3 separate regions of the Homo sapiens genome follow, and regions 1 and 2 are each reported to be linked to region 3. Evidence: microRNA targets listed by miRTarBase, many of them from high-throughput screens and not tested one by one. Region 3 holds a microRNA gene; each other region holds the end of a gene's coding sequence.

Region 1 (11,697 bases), not on the chromosome of region 3:
AAGCCTGATACTGCCATCAATACAGGACTCCCAGATGGATGCAACTATTAGTATTTGTGTATGTGTAGACAATTAGTAGAGCTGATTTTCCGATTCTGAAAATTTTCTAAACAAAAGAATAAAATGTATTAAAAAGACAGGAATGTCAAGTGTTGATATTGACTCATTCACATTTTCTCCCAATTTTATTTTGAACAAACACAATGGTAAGATCACTTCAATGGTTTGAAACAGGTTTGTGGATACAATGAAGCATCTAATGGAAAACCTAGAGATGGATGGATACTCTAACATGTAAAGTAAACATGTCCATTAATAACAAATGTACAATGTCTTCTATATATTTTTTTGCTTGTATGTTGAACTGTCACTCAAATGTACTTAACTTCATTGGACAAGGTATAAGGCTTGCCAATTTCCAAAGTCTGGCAGTCCAAAATCCTTAGTAGCCATTCTGGAACTGCTATTGTTTATAGCATGATATGATTGTGTTATTTTAAATACAGCTTTGTTGTAATATGCCTCCTCCATCCCTAAATACACATTCACCTTTGATGCCTTAAAAATGGACTTCTCAGTAGGAACAATGGAAATTTCACCACTGTCTATTATGGTGAGAACCTATTTCTGACAACATGAGACGTAGAGAAAGCACTGAACTTCTGTGCCAAGCCTGTGGGAAGGGATTGTTGGGGTCACGGGAGAGGGAAGCAGAAGCCTCTGTCTTCTAAGACTCCAGGTTATTTCAGAATATACAAGTTACATTTTTGATTTAATGAAAGGTTTTAGGTAACACTGTTAGAAACAATTTAAACCTTTACAAAAAATAACTCAAATTGATTCAAAGATGCAGAATTCATCAGATTATCTTATAGAGACCAGTGTGACTTAATTCTCCCTAGATTTTATGAACAACTTTTATTAACAGAAATCAAACTTATTGTCCAAAGTGACAATATATCAAAGAAATACATACCAAAACCTGCTGCCATTATAGTTGTTAACATTTTTATTGCATATTTACAATGTGTGGAACATTATAAGGATTTACAGTAGAAGCCAAATTTCCCAGCCCTTAAAATTTTAATAGGAAAAATCGAATAAACCATACATATTTTTGAAAATGAGCATTAGAAACACACAGATGATTATAATTCTATAGACTAATACAGGTGAATGCTGTATGTAATAGAACAGCTGGGAGAGGTAAAAGAGTGGATAAGAGAGTCATCAGAGTGTGAAAAAACTACAGCTGGGTGGTATTGAATAAAGAGACAATATTGAAAATATTTTTAAACGCTAAAATGTCCCGTAAAAGCATAGCTATCCCCTATGCAAAACTGTGAGGTAGAATTTTTCCCACCCCGTTTTCTGCTCTTCTGGCCACCATTTGGGGGACTTCCCTGTCCAGGTGACTCTCTCTCACATAGCTGTACCTGGGGCTTACTAGCAATACATGCTTTCCACTACCCCCTCAACCTCATCACAGAAATAACCTTTTCTGTTCAATGATCAGTCTTACTTTACCTACTGAAAACGGGTGGTGAAAGTTAGTAACATAAACAAACCAGTGCTGTTTCTTCTAGCTAACATATCACCATGGTTGGGCTTTAACCTTTCAAGGAGTGAAATATTGCTAAAGTTTCAGGCATAGGAACCCCTTGAGGAGCTGTCTGGGGCAGACAGGTCTTTGCTTTCCTCAGATAGTTCCAATTGTCATCCTTGACCATGAACAATGCCATTGTTATTCCAAACTCACTTCTTCTAATACTTCAATATGGATCATAAAAATAGTTTACACCTTTATGCACATCAAAATACAAAATACAGGGCACAATAAAACTGAACTGGAAAAAGGTATGGCAGTTTCTTTTAAAACTACCCTGTGACCCAGCAATTCTAATCCAAGGAATTTACTGCAAAGAAATGAAAACCTATGTTCACAAAGACTTACGTAAGAATGGTCATAGCAGCTTTATTTATAATGGCCAATCCTGGAAACAGCCCAGGTATCTATCAATAATAGGAAATTAAGAAAACAAACTGTAATATTGTCATACAGTGGAATACTACTCAGCAATAAAAAAGAACAGCAATAAAAAAATGAAGCCTTGTAGAAAAGCGTACATGTTGCGTGACTCTATTTATATAAAGTTTTAGAACAGAAAAATCTTATGGTAGAAAAAGGAACAGTGGTTGCCTTTGAGGGTCAAGTAGGGACAGGAATTGACTGGAAAGGGCAGTGTGGAAACTTTCTAGGGTGGTGATAACGTTTCCTATTTCCATAGCACTATATGCATTTGCCAAACCTCAGTGAACACATATTTCTATGCACTTCATTGCATGCTAATTTTATGTAAAAAAGCCAACAATGAACTCTAGTTAATGATATGCAATTTAAAATGCATCAAATAATAATATGAAATGATGAATGGATATGTGACAAAGCAAGCATAGGTAATGCTAATTAGCATCTAGGTAGTGAGTACACTATAAAATTATTTTAACTTTTTAATGTATTTGATAATTTTCATAACAAGATGTTGGGTAAAAATACAGGGTGCAATGTTTACCAAATAGTTTTGCTGAGAATTTCATTACTGATTTTATGACAGTAAGATCATCAAATTCTTCTAAGTGTCCATTGAGAAGTAAGTTTCTCTTAAAGGCTTCTGAGACTATTCGTAAGTGTGATGTGAGCAATCAGTTCTCAAATCTACTCTGGTTTATAACTGTCAAAGTGGTATTTCGATCCTTTCACCTTTACAAAATACAATACATATATTTTGATGATATATTCTGAGCAAATCTGTTGGCCATAAAGATAACATAAGAGTTAAGATGAGAAAACATTCCTAAGAGAAAAATCAAACATACAAATTTTATTTACCCTAACTTCCAGACTAAAAAAGAATCTGTAACTGTAATAGAAAAGAAGTGAGGCTTGGTCATAAATAGTGAGTGGTCTACTGTGTTCTGAGTGGAAAGGCACCCAGTCATCTCTCATCTCTCCCCCAAGACAGAAGCATTTGGACACCCTAAAGACATGGTATTCAGCTTGTGAAGACTTCTAAGGTGCCTCCTGGAGATTCACTGGGAACTGGCTGGAGTTCAATAGCCCTTTTGTCAGAAAGTTTTCTACATGCCTAACTTAAAATCCCTAATAACACTGCTCCTGATAAGTAGCAGTTGATAACTACTTTCAGTTAAGAATTCCTATAAAATTACATATAGGAATTATACATACAGCCTCATAAAGTTCTCCAAAAAAAATCTTTAAAAATGTGCCCACTGCTTTCAAAATATTTCATCATAGTTCTGGCTGTCTTTTGATCTCTAAGTTCTTCATGTTCTAGTACAGGTTCTGCTTTTTCTTGAAGTAGAGGGACTAGTGTTTATTCTCAAGCTTTCATGTTTGCTTTAAAATTCTGCAGTAATGTTGAGTCATATTAAGTGTCATACCCATGAACTTTTTTCAGTCTTAAAGACTCCCCTGTATTTATGCCAGCTCACGGAGTGTCCTTAGTTCTATGCCTCTATTACAGTATCAGTCGGCCATTTTCTGTTCATCATCACTGCCTGAGTTTACCAAGAGACTGCTCCTCTCTAAGCATAGCCAGCACTAATTGTGGTCTTTTCATGCTTTGTTCTGTTTTTTTTTTTTTTTTAACCTCATTATTGGGATACTTAAATAACAGATTTATGCTGTTGTTGTTTCTACTGGTCGGTGCTCGCTCACTAATATCCAATCCTAGTATGATTTTCTTTTACTTGTGTCTATTAACAGGGTTATGTCACACCTTGTCAACCTCAAAACAGATGATACTCATCACTTGTCTTCCATCTTGCTGTTCTATTATCTTCCTACAAAAATAGCTAATTTGTCAGATTTCAAAGCCTTGTTATTTACTGATGAGCTTACCAACTGGACCTTTTGTATCTTCAGTGTGTAATTCTGAAGATGCATTCTGATACACTAGTGAACTGGGGGTGACGGTGAAGGGGTGGTGGAACTAAGGGGGTGGGGCGGCGAACATAGGCAATATGCCATTTCCTCACCATCCCATGCTTGTCATGTGAGACAACAGAAAGGATAAAGAATACTCTATTTTTTATTCTGAAAAGATAATTATAGCAATGATACCTTCCATTCTGTTTATTTCTGGATATTTTGGCTTCAACAATTCTTTATATCATATTTTATTCTTGAAATTGGTATGACTTCTCTGTTTTACAGCCTGAGATAAATTCTCAGATATTTTTTTAACAGTAAATGGCAAAGCCAGATTTTTGAAGCCAAGTATTCAAGCTCCAAACACTTTCCATTATATTCATTACAGTTCTTGTTTTAGCTGGTATGTTCTTTCCTCTACAAGTACTGCCATTATTTATGCTTCTTAGCTAAACCTAGACTTTTCAGTAGCATGTATGAAAGTCAAATAATGTCAAATGGTAAGTTTCTACTTCATTTTATCTCATCAGGGTATTTGTTGCTCTATATACCAGCATAGTATATTTTCTACTCCCAACTGAAGCTTTTCATTTTTAGGACTGAACGTTAACAATAAGTCTACTAATTAGGTTAACTGCTTAGCTATGTTCCAGCCATGTTTTTAATGCTAGAGAATTTTTCCTTTGGGGGCTTAAGCAAAGATATCCTAATCATACAGATCTCACTACTGATGATAATATACTTAATGGTGCTTGTTTCTGCCTGTACCATTCCCTATAGGCTGAAGATGTAAAGGACATTAGCAACCACAGTATGTTTAGTTTTTAGTAGCAACAGTATTTTACTACGGCCTTGTGTACTTTGGGTAGGATGTGAGAAGGGGAGTAGTACATAATAATGCCCAATCTCTATTAGCAAGTAACTTACAATGTAGTAGAGAATTCTGAACTATTTCTTCAAATGTAGACCATAGATTCAGCTAACTTCATAATCACATCATTGGTAACAATGGGTTTAGATCAGAGTATGGTTTACTCATCACTGTTAGTAAGGTAACTTAATTGTCATGCTCACGCTAAGGAGTACGACACTAATAATACCACTCCGTATGTCAGCTAATAAGATAACGAAATAACAAACATGTTAAGACTAGCTAACACATGGGAGCAATAGCCAATGTAAATTTGTATAAAGTGAGAAGTATTCAATCTTCTACCTAACAATGAAGCCTAGACCTGCCATCAATATCCCAGCTGGCAGGCTGAGCAGTTTCATCAACATCACCAATGAGTCACCAGAACTGAACAAAGTGACCAACAATGAGGACTGGGAACAAAGCCAATTTGACCTAAAATGAAGTCATCATTTTTGCATAACTCTGCTGGGTTAGACATGTGCGAAGAACAGATGCCAAACTGCCATTATATATTAAGCTTACACAGGAGCAAACAAATGATAAAAGAAAAAAAAAATCCTCAAACAAACAAAAAAACCCAAAAAAACCAAAACAAAATGAAACTAACCCTGCCAGCGTTTCAATAATTCCCTGAGATGGGCTAAAGGAATGTGGGAGGTTGTGACATATATACCAATTACAAATGAGTGGTTCTTTCAGAGACTTGCAAGCTGATGTTAATTTATGACATAGAAACAGCTTGTGGTTTCAAACACACTGCAGTCACTTTTTTCACACGTTTACCTTAAGTGAGCTTTGACCCTATGGAAGAAAGTTGCTTTAGGGCATTACTGGATTTTCATTCATAACTCTATGTACAGATACACATATGAAAGCAGCAGCAAATTTACAGATGAGGAGCAATGATATTCATTATGTTAAAATCATACTTGGCCTCATGTGAAACACTCAATTTACAAGTAACATTTATGAATCCTGCCTTATTTTACTTTTTGTAGGCAAGATAGCTTAAGGTATATAAAAATTAACTCATTTGGCAATTATAACTCCATGAGTTGATGGCAGAATTACTAACAAACCAGTTCCTTTCTAGCAAAGTCTTAAGAAAAACATTCTAACTACTCTGAAATTCAGAAGAAACAGATATTGAGTATTGATATTTAGTTATTGAGTATAACTAAATATCTAAAGTAGTTAGTATCTAAGAATCTAAGAATAGATTCACTTGTAAGTCAGTTCTAACTTTAAAAAAGTATGTTTAAAACATACTTCAGACTGCAATGTAACAGGGATTATTACTAATGCCTATAATACAGCATTCATATTTAGGAGGAATGGGCATCTGTTATGCATGAGCAAGACTGGGAATAGGAGAAGACAAGATTCCTTCCCTCAAAAGAGCTTACTGGGTACAGACATAAACAACTGTAGAATGTGATAGCACCATCATGAAGACTGAAATAAATAATCACAAAAGTTCATACTCATAGCAGTAAAGCCCCAAAGGACTGAGAAGATGATTCAAGTATAGAAAGAACTTCCTGGATGTTCTCAGAAGCAGTGACCACATAAGACAAGAGGGAGCAGTTGAACTTTGCCCTGAACTTCCTGGCATGTTTGACTAGGAAAAAAGGCTGCACCATTAACCTAAATTGTTCCAGGAGGAAAAGGTGATAAATATTGTCAATCTTTAATCAAGGTTGAAATGTCAACTAGGCAATTAAAAAGAAGTACAAGTCTAGATTTCTGGACCAGGTATGTAATCCAGAACATTGGTATAAAATAAAAACTCTAAGGATGAGATACCGAGAAAAGAGCCAAAAGCATTCTGAGGACAGGATCTGAGAGAGCACATGTTCAGCAGGCACATCTTAAATTAGGGTTATGCGACTGTACTCACAGTTATTTCAGAGGATAGCATCTTCAAGGAAGGAGACACTGTCTAGGAAAGGTTGCTCAATGGTGTAAATGTTGCAGAGAAAAGGGTAAGGGATTCAGACGGAGAAAAAAACCATTCAGTTTGGTAACTGGGAGGCCATTGCTGACTTTCAAAAGAACAGTTTCAGTAGAGTGCTGTGTAAAACCAGACTGCAAGGTGCTGAGTAGTGAGTGATGAGGATGTAGGGGCACTGGATGTGGATTTCTCCAAGAAGTCTGTCAGTCAGTGAAGAAGGCTGGAAAAACTAGCAGGTTAAAAGGGAGGGGTTTTTTTTTTGCATTGGAAGATACACGAGCATGTTTGTAGACCTCAAAAAGGAACCAGTATACAACTCGTTTATAATTTTGTAATGACTACAAGACTAAAAAATAATTTTTAATATTTTAAAAAATGTTCTGAAATAAAAATACATAAAATTTAAATTATATGCATTTTACCATTTAAACTTAATACAAACTTAAAAGAACTAGCATTTCATGATAAATTTTATTTCTAAAGGGGTCATACAGTTCTGTTATTGGACTACTTCAGAATTTATTTTGCTTTTAGACTATAATGAGAAACTAAATTTTATTAACAATTGCTATTTTAGTTCCTGAAAGATTACTCTGATATAAAGGATTACACTGAAGTAATTATGTATGCCTTCTTCCTCAGCCCTCCTCCCCTAAAGACAAAGTATCTTCAGGGTAGTTAATAATTTTGAGAATATTTTTCAAGTTGAAAAAGAGAAAAATTAGAAATAGTATTCCATTATTAATAAGTTCTTAAAGATCTAAATTGTTCACAATAATTTTTCATGATAAAACATGCTTATTTATTATATACACATGCTTACATATGTATTTCCTGTCTAAAATACATGCAACCACCATGAAAAAACAAATATTAAACCATCCTCACAGTCCTAAGAATGCCCTTTTAAATAAGGCACTCATGTTTGGAAATAGGATGTAACTACTAAATTAAATAAGATGTTTAAAGAAGTCTTTTATTAAGCACAAACAACTTTTAATACATTATCAATACAAATAGGAAAAGGTCTTTTAATGACTATGATATATCAAAGATCTGAAAGGCTTTCTCTGTATTGACACAATAAAAATAATCAATTCTGAAGAATTACAAAGTAAAATTTTGAGGACACCACTGTCTACTAACAAGAGTTTAACTACTGTCTAAATTTACTAAATCACCTGTGGAGGAAGGGCAACTTTTTTTTTTCTTTTTAATAGAGAGAATTCCTACTCTTATTAGCACCATTCAAAGCTTATTATCAGTTGTTTGTCTACAAACTGACAGGTCAGGTAAAGCTTTAAAGCAAGTTTTCAGTGCAATGTTTATAGTTCCTTCTTTTAAGATACTTGGAATCTACAGCCTCGAAGCATGTTAAGTAATTATGCCTTGGTAGTAGCAAGGTGTTAACATGTAAAGAGAAATGTGTCATGAAAAGAAATGAGACTTATTTTGGCTGTGAAATGCATCTTAAGGTGTGGTGGCTAATGCTGTAGTATGTTGACAACATGCGGGATTATGAACTGCAAATCTGTAGGTAGCTGGTAGCTATTAGCTCTCTGTGGTCACCATTTCAGGATGTCTCAGCTGCTGCCTTTTGAGATTAACTAGTTTCATCCTGTCTCTGATGTTTTCTGCAGTAGAAGCCATGTCACTTGGACTCCCAAAATATTGTTCGGTTCTAAAAATCAAAACACACAGAAAAACCTCAGATTAATACAAATCTATTAACTGCAGTGAATACAAATAGAAGCAAAAATTTACCATAAAAAATCTACATGAGATAGCCTATGTGTAAATATCAGTTCATCGGTGATCATACTGTTTGAGCAGGAAATTCAGCAGGAAAAACATTTTTTAAAATGGCATAAAATACATTAAGACATGATGAGAAAAATATATTGATGGTATAAAGGTTATATCATGTGTAGTTATGATAATAGCAACAAATTGAACAATGAAACACTGGAAATATGTGGGTCCAGAAGGATGCACAAACATAAAATTTATACAGGTACTTGAGTGCTACCGGCTGGGGACACCACTTGTCTATAGAGCTGGCAAGCAAAATAAATATTCTTTTTAATGTTATGACATTTTTTGGTACATTAACAGATAAAATTATTAATTTTATTCTACTCTCAAAGATACTGTATTCAGAATCACAGAATATTTTTAGAGCTGGAAGATTTCTTAGAAATTATCAGGTTAATCTCTTTATTTTTCAGATCAGAAAAGTGGAGCCTAGCAAGTTAAATGATGTAAGCAAGGTCACCCAGGGAAAAACCAGAATTTGAACCTAGGTCTTTGAGCAGTGAATCCAGAGAGACCATCAATCTCTTTTATTTTACCAGGAGAAGGTATAAAAGAGAAATCTGTCTAACCTGTCAAACAAACTATACATGGCATAAACAGATTACCATTATATTAATAATTATGGAAAACACTACACACAACTTTGGGAAATATTTAATTCAGCAAAATACCTAAAAGAGATATACATAAGTTTTAATATGAATATAAAGTGGAATAAAACAGCAATTCCAAAATATTAAAGGTGGGTGTGAACTTTGAATATATAGTACTAACATTCTTTTATCTTAAAAGGATGGATGAGGAAATGACACATGGACTATCTGTGAAACACAGACGAGAAGCTGAAGCAAGCATACCAGGGAGAGGTGTTCCTAGGCTGACATGGGTAGAACAGGAGACTGACTGTGTGACAACTGGCTGTGAAATGTAGGAATCAGGGAGGGTAAGGGATCCTGGAATGGAACAACCAGAAGCACGCCTGTAATTCTGCTACTAGCTGAATTTTGTTGTCTTTTATTGCAGATGTGTAATACAACTTTAGGTGACTTTAGGCTACCTCTGATTGTTCAAGTTTAGGTGGGGCTTGAGATAACGTAAGTATAGACTATGAATAATATTATTTCAAGGGAATAAAATGCCATCTTTTCAATATCAATCCCAAATAATCACTGGAAGATCATGGCACAGTAGTAGCAGTGCTTATTATGTGTCAGATCTGTTTTAAGTACTTTATACTTATTTAGCTCAGGTAATTCCCACACCCCCATAACCTGAGGAAGGTATGAGTGTTACATGGCAGTTTTTAGATGAGGGAATTGAGGCACAAAGGTTAAGTGGCTTGCCCAAGGTGTTACAGTGAGTAAGTGGTAGAGCTGAGACCTCTGGCTCCAGAGTGCACAGACTCATCACACTATACCACAACGTTAAAGGTACTTGTATTTTTATTTACTGGTTTGGTTACTCTATCATTTGAATTAAATATCCTCTGGATTATCTCTAAATTATTTTCAGTAAGAATCAGGTCTAAATCACCAGGGATGAAGCTCCTCCTGATTCTTTTTTTTTTTTTTTTTTGAGACGGAGTCTTGCTCTGTCACCCAGGCTGGAGCGCAGTGGCGTGATCTCGGCTCACTGCAAGCTCCGCCTCCCAGGTTCATGCCATTTTCCTGCCTCAGCCTCCCGAGTAGCTGGGACTACAGGCACCCGCCACCACGCCCAGCTAATTTTTTGTCTTTTTAGTAGAGATGGGTTTTCACCGTGTTAGCCAGGATGGTCTCCATCTCCTGACCTTGTGATCCGCCCGCTTTGGCCTCCCAAACTGCTGGGATTACAGGCGTGAGCCACCACGCCCGGCTGAAGCTCTTCCTGATTCTTTTCCTGATCCATTTATTTTGCATCAGATTATTTCATATTTTTATCACTATTTGAAATGGAAAGGTGTAAGATAATCAGGACCCCATTCCTTCACACATAAAGAAATTAGAACGCCATATAACACAGTACAAAGGGAATGGGTTTGGAGCCACACAGACATACCTGAGATTGTAAGTTTATGCTAACTCTTAGAAGCTGTGAAATCCTGAGAGCCTTACTTAATCTCTGTGGGCCTCAGTTTCTTCATTTGTAAATCAGGAATAATCATACTGGTTTGGTCCTCTTTGGTCAAAAGTAATGAAGGTGAAATGTTTCACTTGGTACTTGGCATATATTGTGAACTCACTAAACATCAATCCCTTGTCCCCTCTTCCTTTTCCTGAATGAAGCCCCAAGTCACACTATTCCCCACCATCATAGCCAAGGCTAGAACCCAGTGTCTTAATCTAGTCAATGATCATTCTACAACAAGCTGTCAAGAAGTAACGCATCTGTTGTTGGCAAGTACCATTACTGTGGCTAAGAGGTGTGGATTTCTTTTCATTTTAAACTAATTCATCGTAGGAGTTAAAGATGTGGACCAAACCTAATTTACTTGGCTTTTTAAAGAATAGATTTCCTCTTTTAATGATTTCACTTTAAGACCACACCAATAAAAAATAAAATTATAAGAACATGCCCCATACCCATCAGGATAAACTACTGGAACAGTTAATCTATCCAAAAGTGATTTCCCAACTGCTTCAATTTCATCAAATTGCTCCTCATCATTAATAGCTTCAGGCTCTTCTGGACAGTCCTGCAAAATCTGCAACAAATAAAAGAGCAACATCAATCAAGAGACACAGACAGGTCTGCAGTTTCAGAGGATCACCCCACCCCACAAAAAAAAAGAGAGAAAAGAAAGACACAGAAATGGAATCAAGCTCATACAAATTTGGTAGATTAAAGGCATTTTCTTGTTCTTAGCATCTTCAGGTATACCACTATATAAGATTGATCTATTATTGGCAAAATTCTTCAAGAAATTCAAACAAACAAAATGAAATACATAATTCCTACTAACAATATGGTGATTTCCAAGAAAGAAAATAACTAGACTACTATTTGGAAAATAAGTTCAATCTGTCCTTAAGAAGTATTCTTTCATTTATATTAAGTAACCATTTATTGAACAGTTTATGT
Region 2 (6,586 bases), not on the chromosome of region 3:
CAAACTCAGGAAATTGCTCTGGAAAAACTACAGGATTTTGGATTTCCAGAACTGCCTTGAAGAGACAAAGATTCTTGTACCAAGTTTTGGTCAACTGCAAATCAAAGAACTTGGTTATGCAGGGAAAACAAATGAGGATATCTGTACCTGGAACTTTTAAACAAGATTCTAATAGTTATGTGAAAAAAGCATTCAAGATTTTTGAGTAGGCACAGTGGCTTACGCCTGTAATCCTATCACTTTGCGAAACTGAGGTGGTGGAAGGATCACTGAAGGTCGGGAGTTCAAGACCAGCCTGGCCAATGTGGTGAAACCCCGTTTCTCCTAAAATTAAAAAAAAAAAAAAAAAGCTAGGGGTGGTGGTCCATGCCTGTAATCCCAGCTACACGTGAGGCTAAGGCAGGAGAATCACTTGAACCCAGGAGGCAGAGGTTGCAGTGAGCTGAGATGGCGCCACTGCACTCCAGCCTGGGCGACAGAGCGAGACTCCGTCTCAAAAAAAAAGCATTCAAGATTTTTCATTGTTCCTAAGAATCTTAATTAAATGAAGACAGAAAGCATCATAAAGTCAGGTAACTACAGCACAGACAGCATTAACATTTACAAAAGTATTTCTTAAGAATTAAACCTGTCAGCTCTACTTACAAGATGTAGAGCTTTCAGGTGAAGATGATTCAAGAACATGCTTTCAAAATAGTAGTTGAGAAACCAAAACATAGCCACGCAGAAATCTGCCAATTAAGTTTTGCTGCCCTTTGAGCAATATGACTTAATGTGATTTACTTTAATTATAACTTAAGTACAACTTAAATGCAGTTTCTATTTTGCTATTGTTATAGATGTAGGCTGGGTGCGGTGGCTTATGCCTGTAATCCTAACACATACTTTGGGAGGCCAAGGTGGACGGATCACTTGAGGTCAGGAGTTCGAGACCAGCCTGGCCAACATGGTGAAACCCCGTCTCTACTGAAAATACAAAAATTAGCTGGTTGTGGTGGAGCATGCCTGTAGTCCCAGCTACTTGGGAGGCTGAGGCAGGAGAATCACTTGAATCCAGGAGGTGGAGGTTCCCACGAGCCAAGATCGCACCACTGCACTCCAGCCTGGCAACAGAGTGAGACTCCGTCTCAAAAAAATGTTGTAGATGTATAAAATTTATACATTTTTAGTCTGACTAGGGCTTTAGAGTGAATATATCTCCTCATTAATCTGGCACAAAATTAGTTAAGTAAGTATACCCACAAAGTGTCATCTAATATATTGTTGCATGTAGAGGAAAACACAGTGAAGAAACCTACTAACTTTATTTGGAACCCTCAATATTGGTGGCTCCTTAAAAATTGGAGAAAAAAATCAAGTCTTAGGAAGTCTTATCCAGTTTTATGGTCTGCTGTGGTGGCACTTAATGAATTACCTGGAATTATAGTTCCTGTAAGATGTTTTATTTTTTAAATAGTTGGCAGGCTATACAAAGAGTGATGTTCCAAAACTACACACATGCTTTTTCCCTGTTCACAAAGGCAAACAGGCTGGCCAAAGTGTTTCCAGCATCTTCGTCATATTTACCCTTTATTATCCAAGTGGTTTCCTGCTCTTCAAACCTTCCTTTCAAAATTTTGTCTCCTACTTAAAACAAGTTAGGATTATTTATCCTTTTATTGGACTGATTATTCTAAGGATAAGCTCTTACTTCACTTTCGGAGTAAAAGGCTTTGTGCCCTTTTTAAAGTTGGGTGTCAGCAAGCAGCTGGAATTTTCCTGCCTGGTAAAATTAAAACCAGCCCCACAAACTGGGGTTGGAGTCTGTGCAAAGCTCATTACTATCTATGTGTGGGGTAGAAATTATAGTGTGTTAAAGGACCTAGTGTAAAAAAAAAAAATTTTAAAGGACCTAGTGGAGGCTTGAACCTTCTTCACATGAACGTCTTCCTTTCAGCCTAAAGTTCTTAAAATGCACTAAATTGACTTAATCTTCAATCATACCTATTTTTTCTGATATGGTTACAACAGCCCAAATTACCAAGATAAGTTGAAAGCCAGTAAAACAATGAAAATAATTTCAATAGTTGAAAAACTATTCTAATTTATATAAAGACATTTATCTCTAAAAAGACTGGTTGGGTTCAAGGACCCTTAAAGACTGATTCTATGTCTAAATAATCTGTTTTATAAGTTCTCATTCTGAATGCAGAAAGAACCTATTATTTTCTGTATAAAAATTTAAAAATTTATATTTCATGGTAGGTTTTAAATTTCCTATTTCTTTAGGCATCAGAGCTTATTTCAAGAATAGATTCCATGAGCCTAACCTTGTATCTTCAAAAAGGCGAGTCTATCATAAACATTGTTTAATATTAAATATTATATCCATCAAATATGGATTTGAAACATTTTTAAGTTTAAAGTCAAATGTTTGTGTAGTTTTTAAAAAGTAAAATACAACAGCATTAGTAACTTTTTATTCTCAAAGTGATAAAAGCATTTAACATATACTTTACAGTATAAACAAATTAAGTACTATGCATTTTGCTTATAAAGTGACAAAGTATTTTAAGCATTATATAATTCAATTTGTACAAAAAGTAAATTTCCAAATACAAGCTTTGGTTAGTAGAACTGATTATGTACTGTCAAATCCATTTTTCCAAAGTTGTTCAAGGAAAAACAACAACTTGACTAGCACAGGTAATTCTTGTACAATCAGAGCTTTTTACTATTTAGAAGGAGGGGATATATTACTATAATTGCTGTTAATTTTCGAATCTAGATAAGCCTTTTTTCTTCTCATATGTTGCTGTAGGAGAGCATATCATCACTTTTGGAAAGCAAAAATTATGTAGAAAATCACCTTTTGCTTTATTCTTAAGAAGGCCATCCGTTTTAAAAGTAGATCTAAGACTGTTAGCTTCCTCAACCACTGAGACACAATCTAAAAGTCACACCACTGAAAAGAGCCGCTTTAAGAATTAATGTATTCCACCGGGGTTAAATCATTTCTGATTTCCCTCAGGAGGGTAGTAATATCTACTAGCACTAGTGCCCAGCATCAAAGTTTATATCATCTTTTAAAACTCAACATTTTATAGACTCTACAATGCATGGATTACTTTTATTCATATGAAAGTAATATAAAATGTTACCTAACTTAAATAATATAAAATATCGGTTTAACCAAATTAACAATCACAAAACTGCAGACATTTTTCTATTAAAGTTTTCCAGTTCACTGAGCAATATTTACTGAAAAATATGATTATGAACTTAAATATGTCCTCTTTAAAATTTGCTGTTTATGCTAGACTGTACAATGGTGCTCCCTTTATGATTTTTAAAAATTTTACTTACATAACTATGTAATTCCAAAATAGAAAAGTGAGTGAGCCATCACTAAAATTTACTGGAAACTAATATTCTTTCATGGAAACAACTGATAAACATTTTAAAGTTCTATATTTATTTAAATTTGGCTTTTTAAAATAGGTAAGCTTTTCATTTCAATTATTGTTTAATACTTTAAAGCTAGTTTAAACAAAGATAAAACCAAGGAGAACTAGTAAAGCATTCCTTACTTTACATACAGTGCCTCAAGTGCCACATACATAATAACATATCACAAAAGAATGTATATGGTTTAGCAGATTACAGAGCAAACCTAAAAGTTTATACAAAGCTAAACACTGCCTCCCTTCTGTTCCATTTATTGTCTTTTAATTTGATCTTGGCTCTGTATTATCCTTCTATAATACCACTGTGTGACATCTATCAGTCTTCTAAGTGTTCTGATTACTTATATATACCTTTTTCTTTAAACAGCTTTGTAACATTTGAGAACATTCATCCAATCTTTTCCATTAGATATGATATATTCATTTTTCTCACAAAATGCTCACTTTCCTGAGCTATATTAAACACCTTATAACAGGTGTATGTGTAACTGAAGACCCTAAAATGTCAAGTTTACATTTTTTTTTAAATGCATAGAGAATATAACATTTCAGAAAACCTATTAGTACTTCTTGGATATTATAACATATAGGTTTTGTTTCCTTTAGACTGTAAACTGTTTAATACGTATAACTGGTTATTTCACATCCGAACCACATTAAAAAAAATTCGGAGATATGACTGCTATTACACTAAGGAAACAAGTGGAATTTTCTGACCAAAACTCATTCATGGGTCTTCCGATAAACAATCTTTACATATACTGACTGAAGATATCAAATTTCTGTGCCACAAAATAGTAGAATTATATCAGAACTACAGCAAATAAAACTTTAATTATAATACATTTGCTTGAAATTAAGGTGCTATTCATCATGCAGTTTTTACCAAGTGGGCATCATGTCGGGAAACCACACCCTACCAAGATGCTTGGACACTTCCCAGTGAATCTGCTCCAAACTATACTTTTGGTCAGGAATTAGTACTTCTTCCATAATGGATAATTGAGATAGGCGGCCACCACACATCTTCACAAACTCAACAAAGGCACTACATGAGACTTCACATTCCCCTAGTCCAATAGCTGACAAATTTTTGCAACGTTCTGCAATGCGAATTAACTCTTCATCAAGTGGCCGTAATCCATTTGCACACACTACTAGTTCAACCAGTCTAGGGCATGTCATTCCCACACGGCCAAGCACATCTTTGCTTACTGATCTCCCAAAGTACAGATGGGTGGCAGGTATTTCATAGCGAAAGAAGGGGTCAAATTCTTCTTCATATAAAAAAAAATACATCACTAAGTTCACTTTGGGTGAATGTCTGATGAAAGCATCCCAGCTACTCTTCTGAATAGTATGGAAGTGTGTCTGTCCAGGATTCTCACTGACTACATCAATGCGCAAATGTTCTAATCGAACATGTTTTTCAGAAGACAATGCAAGTAACAACTCATCACTCAATAAGTGGTAGTTCAGGGCTAGTTCTCTTAAGCCGTGACACTGATCAGCCACACAAAGGATACCTTGAAAGAAAAAAAAAATTATTTGCAAGTTTTTGTAAAAGTTTATCTGTTGAAAAATTCAATCAAGTACATGTCCCACAAAAGTTTGTCACAGTTCCCTTACCACAAAACTATATAATTTAAAATGTGCATAGTTGAATTAGAAGGGAAGTAACAAACATTTAAAATCTATTACTAATTTTGTCTACAAGAAAATGAAACCAATTCTAAATCCCATCTATTAAAAAGAAATAAAACTCAGTTAACTCTGTCATTTAAAAAATACACCATCACTAAGGTTAGGGCATTCCAGTAATGCACAGACAGTGCCATATTTTTAAAAAGTTATTACTAACACTAAACTTATAGGTTAGGTAATTACAGGACCACTGTGACGGAGGCCAAAGGACATTTTTTGAAGTTCAAAACCTAATCCTAATAAAAACAGAGTAAGATAGAACCATATAAAACTATGAATTAGGTAATGAAAGAAAACATTTACAAACTAAAGATTCTATCAAATGATCAAGTCTAATTGCTAATAGCATATAAGCAGCTTATTAAACTTATAAGAAAAAATACCAAGATATCACTAAGTATGTCAAAAATAACTACTCAATTCACATTAATGGAAATATTCATTATGACTTTCGAAGCTCTAACATACCTAGAAAGCAGTTCCCTTAGATGATTCCCTATACTTAGGGTGCCATGCTTTATAACTTACCAAAACTATCATCCTAGCAACAGATGACATTGCAAAGGTCAATGTTTGATCTCTCTGTAAGAGTTCTGTTTTTGTTTTCAGTCAGTCTCACCCTGTAGCCCAGGCTGGAGTGCAGTGGTGTGATCTCAGCTCACTGCAGCCTCTGCCTCCCGGGTTCAAGCAATTCTCTTGCCTCAGCCTCCTGAGTAGCTGGGACCACAGGCGTATGCCACCACGCCTGGCTAATTTTTGTATTTTTGCTGGAGACAGGGTTTCACCATGTTGGCCAGGATAGTATCGAACTCCGGACCTCAAGTGATCCACCCATCTTGGCCTCCCAAAGTGCTGGGATTACAGATGTGAGCCACTGCACCCGGCCTACTATAAGAATTCTACCCCAAAGAGGCACCTTATATTACCTGGTAAGTTACCCATTCAATCCATTTCTTCCTTATGTTTAGAAACAGGGATAGGAACAAGAAAACATACACCGTATTTTCATCTATTTATTGTTACAAGTATGATGTGCCAGGTACTAGATGTTATCCCACAAATAATTTTAAAAATCTGGAAAAGTATTATTTCTACTTTGAAGTGGAGACAGCTAGCTAAAAATAGCAAAGCTGCAATACAAACACAGGCTAAGTGACTCTTATGTCCATGCACTTAACTACTGCTTCAGAAATGACAAGACAGAGGCCACCAATAAGCCATAGCTTTATAACAGTGGGAAAAGATAGGCATTAGAATTATCAGAAGAGATAAACTGAATTACCAGAATGAGTCACCAGAAAAGAGAGTAATGTCTCAGTATTCAGCAACCACAAAGTTTCTGTTTTCCGCAAAGTAGGTATATACTTTATTTTTGTTTTGAGATGGAGTCTCGCTCTGCCACCCAGGATGGAGTACAGGGGTGTGATCTTGGCTCA
Region 3 (11,697 bases):
AAACAGGGACAATTTGACTTCCTCTTTGCCTGATTGAATACTATTACTGGAGATCTATAGGACTACCTTCTATTGAGGAGTCTGGCTTCTAGCTAAAACTCCATGTGTGATTTTCCAGACCTGGCCATGGTCAGTCAAAAAGGCTTTGCCTGGCAGATCACACAGAGGGAACCTGCCTTCCCCATACCAGACTTAGTGCGCAGCCACTGCAACCTCCAAAGGAAGTTGCAGGCAAGGACTCATTCGCCCTGGCTGGCCATGCTCTTATGCACATCTGTATTTCCAGCCCAGGCACCATCATTCAGAGGTTCTTTGTCTGGGCCTTCAAGCAGAGGTACCTCTGCCTGGTTCTCTTTATGGCGGAAGCAGAAGAAAACCTTGAAGACACTTTTCTCCACTCTCAGTGTGCAGTAATTTCCCATTCTTAGCTCTTTCCTCTCCACCTCTCCAGCCCCAGGGACCATGAAACTGCGGGAAGCTTTGGTTCAGAGCTCCCTCATCAGGGAGACAACCCCTTGTCTATGTTGGTCCACTTGACCCTCCACAGGTGCTGCTCCGTGGGGGAAAGCAGGACTGGGGAGAATGGGTGTGTTCTCTGGTTAACCTCTTCCTTGTACAATTGCAGTTCAGTGATTAAAGGCTTGACTGTCACTTTCATCTCGGCTTGTTTTCTTGATCAGCTAATGGCTACTCTGACCTGAAGCAGATCAGATTTCTCCAGCTTAGCCTAGCCCTTGACAGTCACAAATTTAAGATACCAAGCCACCTTCTCAAGCCCCACCTTTAGACTTCACCTTACACCTCCTCATCTCTCTGCCTTTGATCACTCTCATCCATTCTCCTGGAATAACATTACTTCCCAGCCTCAGGGTCAAATTGTTTATGGGAACTAAGGTCCTTTCAGAAGCTCAAAGATCTCGGTTACCAAGAAGGTAAGTAATATTGCTGAGGACTTTCCAACTCCCCAGCACATTTCAGTGGCTCTTCTGCACCAAGAGCATAGGCTAGTGCCCTAACAATACTTCTATGCATTTAAACAATATGCAAACAGTACAACAAGACTCTCTAAAAGTGAAAATGTTATCTGTAACTATTACAAATATCTGAAAAATGGATCAACTAAATGCAATCTTTTTAAAAATAGAATCTGACAAGCCAGTTTGTGAGTGTAGCCATAGCCTCAGAGAAAAATGGAAATATTAAATGATAAAAATGATAATGACAACCTCTTCTAGGTGCTGTGCATTTAGAGGCATTATCTTATTTAGTCCCAACGACAATCTCATGAGAGTTGGAACCTAGTATTAGTCTCATTTTACAGATAAGGGAAACAATGGCTAGATTGTTAATTAGCTATAAAAAGTCAAGCAAATGAAAAGAGGGACTTAATATTGAGTCTGACACCAAGACCTTTTATGCCTTGAAGATCACTTTTTAATACATTGTCTACAAATATTCCTACCTGGATAACAGGGGACAGCTCCTTCTGATCCTTCCAGTGGTAAACCCAGGATTGGTAGCTTTTATTCCTCTGCTTTTCATATATAAAATTTATTGTAACTATGACAATCACAGAGATGATTGTTGATCCCACAATTCTTGATAAGACATAAGATGAATTGAGGCAGCCTCAGAAATGGGAAAATATTCAGTGTAAGGAGTAAAGATGGAAGCTTGCTATTGACTGTTTTTGTGGCTTTTTCATTTATTTTTAAATATGAGCATGTCTATAAGTTTATCTGATTTTTCTTCCCCTTTTAAAAACATCTCCAGAAAAAAATCTAGTCTAATATAAAAGTAATTATAACTTTCATAGTAATTATAACTTTCATATTTATTCTTCTGGAAAACAGTAGAGGCATGAGTGCTTTTGATTGCATATTACACATTGGGGAAAAAGTGTTTTGTTGTTTTTTTTTTTTTTTTTTTTTTTTAACTCTAGAACTAGAATTTTGAATGTCTAAATGTTTTTTTATATTTTCTCACCATTCTCCTCTAACAAAAATAAAAAGCATTGCCTTCGTTGCTCTGCCCTTGTTCTGATTAAAATGTGTATTATGCTACCATTCTACTTATGTAGCACTTTTACATGCTAAGATAAAAGGCATGAATTATATTATCAGCCCTTGGTTATTCAAAATAAAATAATTTTTTGAATAGGCCATGTAAAATACTGTATATCATTTTGAACACCCTTGAATTGAAACCAAGAAAAATTGGAGGTCTTTTCCCACAATTCTCTGATTCCTGGGATCAAATATTAAGCATTCAAAACATTTGAATTCTTCTACTCAAGGTAGAAAATCAGTGAGGTTTTGTTTGACATTTTCAAATATTTTTCTTTGTGTTCATGTCAAAAACACCAATCAAAGGGCCCAGTGATGTAAGCCCCTGTGCACCTTTCTCTGGGTGCGTTCTCCCTCATTTCTGTCTCTGCTCCGTGAATTCACTCACCTATCAGCACAACCATCATCTCTCATCCTGGCCTTTTGTGACATGAGCTATCACTAAAGAGCTTAGAGCAGAGAATATGATTAACTGGAAACAAGGAAGAAAACTGAAGTAACTCATGGTGCAGTGACTCTGTGGTTTGAAAAACCCCAAAATGATCTACCTGGGAGGAACCATAAAGGGTTATTTCATCTTTTCTATTCTTTAGGTTTTTCTTCCCTCCAGTTTCTGTAACTATAAAATGGAGAACAGTAATGGACTTTGCTGGAGTTTTTTTTTTTTCATTTTTATTTTTTATTTATTTATTTTTATTATTATTATATTTTAAGTTCTAGGGTACATGTGCACAACGTGCAGGTTAGTTACATATGTATACACGTGCCATGTTGGTGTGCTGCACCCATTAATTCGTCACTTACATTAGGTATATCTCCTAATGCTATCCCTCCCCCCTCCCCCCACTCCACAACAGGCCCCGGTGTGTGATGTCCCCCTTCCTGTGTCCAGGTGTTCTCATTGCTCAATTCCCACCTATGAGTGAGAACATGCGATGTTTGGTTTTTTGTCCTTGCGATAGTTTGCTGGAGTTTTGTGAAGGTTAAATAATACTAGGTATGGCTAATTTACATGACACATAACAGACATTGTTCCTTTCAATAAATATTAGCTGTCTGATTGCTCTGGGTTCACTTTATGTAGGAAAATTTACCCATACAATGAGGTTCTCCTCTCCTCTTAGTATACCTGTATGACAGCATTTTTCAATTTCACTTTTACATGTTTGGCTGCTTGTCTCAGTCCTCTAGGCTCTGAGTTCCTTAGTTGCAATGATACTTCTCATACTTCTCATATATCTTTACATTTTCAGTGTTTACTAGTATTATAAGGCTTCTAAGTAAAGGGACCCCTGAAATGTGTGAGAGCTTGGACACATAAGGCTTATAAGAGCTTGGACACAAAAAGCTTATAAGAAAAAGGGACCCCTGAAATGTGTGAGTGCTTGGACAAATATCAATATCTCTGATTCTTTGTTTCTTCATCTTAAATGAAAATGGAAATATTTCAATTCTGTGTATATCATAAAACTTTATAAGGATTAATATGCATAACTAAAAGATTAATGTCTCATTGTGAACATATTTCTAAAATAGTTACAGTCTTATGGAACACAACTACCATATGTTAATGTAACATCTATCATCAATAAAGTGTTCACATTGAATAATTCTAGGAGTCATGATTCACCTAGAACCCAACACTACGTATCAGATAATAAATTAGAATATCTATTGGAAGAGTAGAATCAAGTGCAATTCTCCAAAATGTAATGCATTTCTGTGTGTCATAAGTAAAAACAGCTGTCATGAAGGAAATAATCAGCAACATATAGTAGATAAATTCAAGGAATATAAGAAACAAATTGCTTTGAACCCCTGACATCTACAAAGTTTATCCTGTGAAGGTCAAGCACAGTGCTCCATGAGATTCTTTTAGAAAGTAATAGGTTTAAAGGTTTCAAACAAATTGTGTTCTTAGGTTTTCTTGGTAAGTAATAGATTTGAAGATTAAATCTGATTCTGTGCTAAGGTCTTTGTTTTCAGGGGTGGCAAGATGATAATCTAGTTGTTTATTTAAATTGATTTTGTGACTAACACATAATTTCACAACTAGTAATGCTTAATGCCAGCAGCTCGGTTTGTCAGACATTTTTTGATGAAATAAATGTTATTTTTATTTAACTTTGTATACTCAATAATGATTTTGTAAAACAATGGGAATTATAATTTGATTTCTTTCACAAGAACTCACTTATAAATAATGTACTTTTAGATGCATTTTTTTATGGAAGGTATACTGAGTTGTCACAGAATTATTAAAACTACGCTCTAAATTGTATGTTTAGTCAGTGTGACAACTGACTAGGTTAATATAGCAAACCTGTCACTAGCTGAAAATCCAGCTGTCAACCACAAAGCAGGCACCCTGCATGAGCACTCAATATGACTACTGATTGGCTGTGACCATCAAAGATGAAAGGAATTCGAGTTAAATATTTTGAACAAATTACTTCTCTAACCCTTACTTTGTTCATCCACTAATGGAGACAATAACTACTTCACAGAATTTTTGTGAAAATTAAATTCAAATATGCCAAGATATATAAAACACTTTGCAGAATACTGGCAGATAGCAGGTACCCCAAAAACATTTAGCCTTTTTTTCTATTTTATCTCAGTCACCCACACACCCACATATTTAGCATAATGTTCTTCTATAGGCTTTGCATTGTTTAACTGTGAAGGACAATCTAATGAGCTAGATTCTACTGGGTGTCCAGATCATACATATAATGATCTCATCATACATATAATGATCATATATATAAAGATCTGTACTCTCAGTAGAATATATAATATATATATATTTGTGGAGAGTAACGGTTTTAAACATATATAAATAGTTACATTCCATTTTGGAAAAAAAAGAACCATATTAGAGTACTTAATACTGCTTGATTTCAAGATGAGCTATAAAGATATAGCAAATAAGACCACATGGTACTACCATAGGGATAAACAAATAGATCAATGGAACAGAATAAGATCCAGAAATAGACACAAATGTGCATACATATATGGTCAACTGTTTTCAAGAAAGGCACTAAATAATTCAATGAGGAAAGAGAACTCTTTTAATAAATGGTGCCGACAAAACTGGATACCTATATAAATAACCTTGGCCCCTTCCTTAATCTATACACAAAAATTAATTCAAGGTGTATCACAGACCTAAATGTAAAAGCTAGTAAAACATAGAAGAATATCTTTATACCTTGGGGTAAACAAAACTTTCTTAAGTAGATCATAAAAGGTCAAAATCAATAACTCTGACTTTAACAAAATAAAAACAGCATCTGCTCATCAAAAGACAGCATTAAAAAAGTAAAAAGGTAAGCCGCCAATTTGTATAAAATACTAACAATACCAAAGCCTCCAACTTACAGAGGTAAGCCTCCAATTTGTAGAAAATGTTAACAATACCAAAATATAATTAAAATGTTTTCCTAAAATGTGTAAAGAATTTCTACACATTGATAATTTAGAAGATTAACAATTCAACCTAAAGTAATGTGCAAAAAAGAATCTTCAAATGGTCAAATATATGAAAAAATATTCAACACTTTTAGTTATTAGAGAAATACAAATTAAAGCCACAAGGTGATGTAACTGTATACCTATTAGATTTGCTAAAATTAAGATGTCAACAAATTCCATGTGTTGGTTGGGATTGGACAACTGGAATTTCCATATACCTCTGTTGCGAATACAAAATGTTATAATCATTTAGGAAAATTATTTCTAATTAAGTAAGACATACATCTAAATTCTGATTCAGTAGTTTTACTTCTAAATATCTACACGAGACAAAGTTTATGTCCAGTAAAGCCTTTTCCAACAGTGTGGCAGCAGTTTTATCTGTAATATCCTTGAAATGGAAACAATCCAATATTCATCAAAGATGCTTTGGTGTATCCATTCAATGGAATTATACTTAACAAAAAATTTACCATAATATTAAATACCATGCATGGATCTCAGAAACATGTCAAAATAAGCCAGACACCAAAGGACAAATATTGTGTAATTCCATTTGTTTGAAGTGCTTGGAATAGGCAAATTCAGAGACAGAAAGTAGAATAGTGGTTACCAGTTTCTTAGGGAAGAGGGGAACGGCGATGTATTGTTAAAGAGGTGTAGAGTTTCTGTTTGAGATGATGAAAAAGTTCTGGAGATGGATGATGTTGATGGTTACAAAACTATGAATATACTTAACGTCAATGAATTGTACACTTAAAAACAGTTGAAATGGTAAATGTTGTGTTATGTATATTTTACTACATGTACAAAAGATAGCCAAATACCAGGTCAAAAGTGCACAGGTGGGAGAGTCCATAATTTTTTTCTGCTCTAACTGATACTTTCATAGTTTTCTCTGTCAATCTTTCCAGAAACAAACAAAAAAGAATGCTTACTTGGAAGACAAGAATCTGCAGAAAGAAATAGTGACTTATTTTTCTAGGAGTTCTTTCTTCTTGTAACTCTACTCAGACAAAAGATAAATAATTCCAAGCATCACATGTCATTCTAAAGGGTTTAAATTTTCATTAAAGTGAGACAGCAGACAGGCTTCCATGGAAATAATGTGAATTTGTGCCCACATCCAGCAGGGATAATGAGTCTTTTAATTATAAGTTATTGGGCCAAATTCAAAAAGACATGATGGGCAGGCATTAGGTAACTAAATAAAAAATAGCAATTGCATTTCTCCCCTTGCATTTTAAAGGGACAACACCTGAGAACCTCTACTTGATATTCCTTACACAATGAACCCTGTGTCATGAAGTCATTTGAAATAATGACATTTGATGCTGTGTATCCAATAACTTTAAATAACATCATTAACATTAGAATGAAAAGAATGGAAATTGGCTATCTAGAGGGCACCCATCCTCATGAGGTTTTTCAAACAAAAATTATATGACTGTCCGTTTGTGACACATATTTGTCTTGTGTAAGTGATAAAATGAATATATTTACAAGGAGGAAGAGAAGAAGAAAGGAACAAACCATCTAGTCATCAAAAGCTTCAGCTTTAAATCAATAATTACAGAACAAATTGTTACTTCTTCAAGAGATCTAGCTATTAAAAGGCATTATCACTTCACTGAGAATCCACATGTGTGTTCCTCAGTGTTTTCTTTTGATATAATCCAGAGTAAGCACTGGTTTAGGTAAAAAACTGGAGTCAGATTTCAGGTTTGTCACTAAATTGCCAAGGGATTTGGATGTGCCTATATTTTACACAGTCTTGAAAATGAGGGGCTTGGGTGATTTTATAACTAATTTTCTTTTAAACACGTGACCCTAAGTCACTGTTTAAGAGAGTGAGGGTTTTCACAGGGCCTACTTATGACTTGTGTGAGACACTGGGCCAGGGGTTGAGTGATATCTGGGGTCTTGAAGCAGAAAAAAACCTGACTGGCCAATATTTTATTTATTTATTTATTTATTTTTTTAATTTGAGACAGGGTCTTACTCTATCGCCCAGGCTGGAGTGCAGTGGTGTGATCTTACGCACTGCAACCTCTGCCTCCTGGGTTCAAGCGATTCTCCTGGCTCAGCCTCCCGAGTAGCTGGAACTACAGGTGACCAACACCACGCCCGGCTAATTTTTGTATTTTTTATTTCATTTTATTTTGAGATGGAGTTTCACTCTTGTTGCCTAGGCTGGAGTGCGATGGTGCGATTTCAGTTCACTGCAACCTCCGCCTCCCAGGTTCAAGCGATTCTCCTGCCTCAGCCTCCAGAGTAGCTGGGATTACAGGCATGCCTCACCATGCCCAGATAATTTTGTATTTTTAGTAGAGATGGTGTTTCTCCATGTTGGTCAGGCTGGTCTCGAACTCCCAACCTCAGGTGATCTGCCCTCCTCGGCCTCCCAAAGTGCTGGGACTACAGGCATGAGCCACTGCGCCTGGTCCTAATTTTTGTATTTTTAGTAGTGACAAGGTTTCACCATGTTGGCCAGGCTGATATAAAACTCCTGACCGCAGGTGATCCACCCAACTCGGCCTCCCAAAGTGCTGGGATTACAGGCTTGAGCCACTGTACCTGGCCTGGCCAATACATTTTGAGATGAGAAAGAGTGACAAACATATTTGCTTCATTCCTGTATCTCACTTTTGGTTCGAGCCTTGAACTATGCCACATAAAAAAGGTGTTTATAACAATCATGAAGTTATATAAGCAGTGGTTCACATGCTTGGTGAATTATTCACAAAGGTAACTCGGAAGAGTTTTAAGTAAAATCAGATTATAGTTTAGCAGAATAAACAGGAAGTCAAGCAGGAAAATCATTTTTCTGTTTATCACTCATTTTTGTTATGGCTTTGAATGAAAATATGATAAATATGTTGACCTTGAAACCGCAGGAAATAAGATGAAAAGGAAACCTGGAATAATTACCTAAAAAAATCGGCTTCAAATATTCTAGGGAAAAAGTGTATAGAAAGACTGAAAACTGTTTCTTGATATGATTTTAGTTTGAATGAAAATGAGCTAGATCTATCCCTGCATATTACTTGACCTTTTGGATATAGGCAAAAAAATGTGTATTTTGGGGTAAAGCAGAATATTTGAATTATTTTTGTGAATTACATGAAGAAATAGGGAGGACACTACAGGTGAATTGGATTAATAACTGGTATGATGACACATGTAAAGAACGGGAGAACGTCAACATGTAGAAAGGTTTAGTGGCTTTTTTAGGGTCATTCATATCTATGCTTTTCAGCCATTATAGGATTTTCTCCCATAGCACTGATTAGCTTGACCTTAAGAACAGGCAAGGTAGTTCATCAGGACTATATGAGATAAATGATGATAGTATAAAGGCAAAAATAAAATAAATCTTGAGGGTGCAGAATATGGTTAGTCACTTGATCAACCACAAGGTCCAGTTTTAAAAGGAGAGTGAGAAAATAAGAATAATAATACCTGGGGAAAAAAAAAAAAGAAAGGAGCAAGTTGAAAGTGTTTATGAGGCTTATCAGCTAATCAGTTTATTGAGAGCGGAGACATTAGAGATTCAGATGAACACAGGGGCTGTCATATAGGATGGTTTTGAAGTTTAAGGTTTTTAGTGAAAGTCGCTTCGAGGAGAAGAAAACAAGATTAAAATATGGCCTGGGTATGGTGGATGAAATAAAGTGGTAGAGAAGATTGCTGGAATGGTGTGTCAAATAATTGAGCCACAGAATTAGCATTTTCGATTTAGCCGGACACATTCCAGGTGTACAACTAACCTTCATTTATTGATGTTGAATAAGTGCATGAAGACACAAGGTACCCTGAGAGGTTGTAGCAGTGGGGTTAATGTAAGATAAAATGTAACAAAGATACATGAAGAGGTCTTGCATGTGAGTCAGACAGAGCCTGGCATGAAGAGAATGAAAGACATGCAGTTTGTCAGCATCATTCATGAAATACTTATAGGTTTTCATGGAAAATCAGATCCATAATAAGTCCATAAGATAATGTGACCACCCACAACATCAATGTGATTGTAGCACATCTGAATAATAATGCTGTGCTTAAGATGAGAGAGGTACTCTTAAGGGATGTCTAATAGTCACATGACATTTGCAACTATGCAGAGGAGGATGACAAGTCAAGTAGGGAGCTGACAAGCAAAGAGAAATATTTGTAGAAACTAAGAATATTTTACTTGGAGAAGAGAAGCATTGGTGGAGAGAAGGGGGAGGGGGGCCCTTGACAGACATCCCCAAATATTAAAAGTCATGCCGCAAGAGAAAGTCACTAAACTCATGAGATGTATTTATAGTCCCAGGGGAAACAATTATGACAAATGAGCAGACGTTATAGAGGGACAGAACTTTGAATATACATTTCTGAAAGTTAGACCTACATATGACAAAAATGGTTGCTTAAAGACAAAAATATCCCTGTCATTAGAAAAGTTCAAGCATGAGCTTGAAGATGACGTAAAAGGACTCAAACGTCAAATGAACTATTGGAAAATCAGACTTTTATCAGTCTTTTGGCACATATTTTGAGTCAGCAAAATAAGAATTACAGTCTAAAGATACATTTTTGGTGATTCTGTTTTTCTGTTGTGCATGCGATAAGAAGAGGCTGAAGACTGATAAAGGTAGAATGAATTAAAATTGTTAATACTGGAAAATTAATCTAACACACTGAGGATTAAATAGAATTTGTGTAACACCCACACAGTTAAAAGTTTCAATCCAATTAATACTCCCTTAAATATTATTTTCTGGGCTCTGAAAATGAGTCATCAAATGTAAAACCCAGACCTGAAATAAGTCTAGATTAACTTATTTATGAATTAATCATAAAAACAGCCTCCTCAAACTCATTATATCATTGGTCACAATCTTCTGCAAAGACAGGCAAAGAATAGCTGATTGCTTGCATTAGGTGAAGCTAGTATGTGCTGCATTGTTCAGACACTTGCTTTATTATCTATTTTACACATACAGATGTTGATAGTTATAATAAGCATAAATTTATTTTATCATTTGCTTATTATGACAGGTACCATTTTATGTATTTTATGATCATTTATGACTTTTCATCTAAAGAGCCAAGAGCACATTCAGAAATATATTTCCCAAGAATAGTACCATAACACAAATGTTTGCTTAGTTTGAACCGAATCTGATGTGACAGCATGATAGATACTTCTTCCTTTGGCTAAAAAGCATCACTTCCCATCAATGTCAGTTCCTTACAAGACCCACATGTCATAGAGTAAGTATATTTTCTTATTGTAACCTCCGACTCCTGTTGTGTGTCCCTCTGTCAAGCCATATCCCATAGGAAACTTCTTGACATCTGCGTCCTCCTCAGTCTGGAGGAAAAAATCAATTCTAAGATCAAAACTACATTCCTGGAAAATAGTCTCAGAAAAAAAAACACCAATTTTATTAAAGAAAATAATAGGCAAATCTACATATCTGCATAATACCCCAAGGAAAAGTAGACTTCAAACTGCATGATGTCACAGACTTACATCCTTCCTTCACATACATATTTCCAAAAAATCACTGAATTTACTATCAACTATAGAGAAAAATCAATCATACAGGTGAATGATTGAAACACAGTTTTCATCTAGTATTCTAAATTGAATCTCCATCTATGGAATTTGTAAATACTTTATAACTTTGAAGTGAAAATTCTTAAGGCCAGCATTTGCTCCCTTTACATATAATTCAAAGTAAGGGAAAAAATTACTAACTGGTCTAATTAGCCTATTATACTACAATTTAGACACCTTACTTTGATGATTTAAATTTCAGATTATTTAAAAATAAGGCTTCTTAAGGAATATCAGTATCTAATTTTTAAACAATAGTTACATAATAGCTGTTGACTAAATGAATCAAGAAAATTAAATTCATGAATAAATAGCTGAATGACAGACACAAGACTATACACATTATTATTTAAAATGATACGCTGGAGTCCCTTAAGGAAAGAGAACTTTGTTTTCTAACAAACATTAAAAAATTCTGATCATTTCATTTTTGAAAGGCTGAAATAATCCATCACTAATGAAATTATTTATATTCATTGCAAAGATATTATTAAAGGCACTGTGCAATTCTTCTACTTTGGGGGTATATCAAATTATATGTTA

What was found. The annotated mature microRNA hsa-miR-4528 reads UCAUUAUAUGUAUGAUCUGGAC and lies in region 3 at 4,784-4,805, opposite strand. An mRNA with a match to its seed (bases 2 to 7 or 8) in the 3' UTR can be bound and repressed. Matches are read on the target gene's strand: a 7mer-m8 pairs with bases 2 to 8, a 7mer-A1 pairs with bases 2 to 7 and ends in A, and an 8mer does both.
Region 1: miRTarBase lists SESTD1 as a target of hsa-miR-4528. Seed matches in the 3' UTR shown: 7mer-A1 at 5,778-5,784, 7mer-m8 at 5,372-5,378, 7mer-m8 at 4,324-4,330, 7mer-A1 at 3,673-3,679, 7mer-m8 at 1,036-1,042 and 7mer-m8 at 990-996.
Region 2: the mRNA of FBXL3 is a reported target of hsa-miR-4528. Seed matches in the 3' UTR shown: 7mer-m8 at 2,556-2,562.

What each region holds. Positions count from the first base shown.
Region 1 is chr2:179,101,526-179,113,222 of GRCh38, forward strand. It overlaps SESTD1 (SEC14 and spectrin domain containing 1), which reads right to left. Exons shown (of 18, transcript NM_178123.5): 17 at 11,199-11,320; 18 at 153-8,503. The coding sequence ends at 8,374. Among named protein-coding and RNA genes, the nearest start is that of CCDC141, 57 kb to the left of the region's middle. RefSeq lists silencers at 5,003-5,203, 6,283-6,483.
Region 2 is chr13:77,002,817-77,009,402 of GRCh38, forward strand. FBXL3 (F-box and leucine rich repeat protein 3) reads right to left here. Exons shown (of 5, transcript NM_012158.4): 5 at 2,444-4,972. The coding sequence ends at 4,329. It overlaps CLN5 (CLN5 lysosomal BMP synthase), which reads left to right. Exons shown (of 4, transcript NM_006493.4): 4 at 1-2,301. Among named protein-coding and RNA genes, the nearest start is that of CLN5, 14 kb to the left of the region's middle. RefSeq lists an enhancer at 6,549-6,586.
Region 3 is chr18:53,230,264-53,241,960 of GRCh38, reverse strand. It overlaps MIR4528 (microRNA 4528), which reads right to left and starts at 4,860; the gene lies at 4,771-4,860. All of the region lies in intron 12 of DCC (DCC netrin 1 receptor), which reads right to left.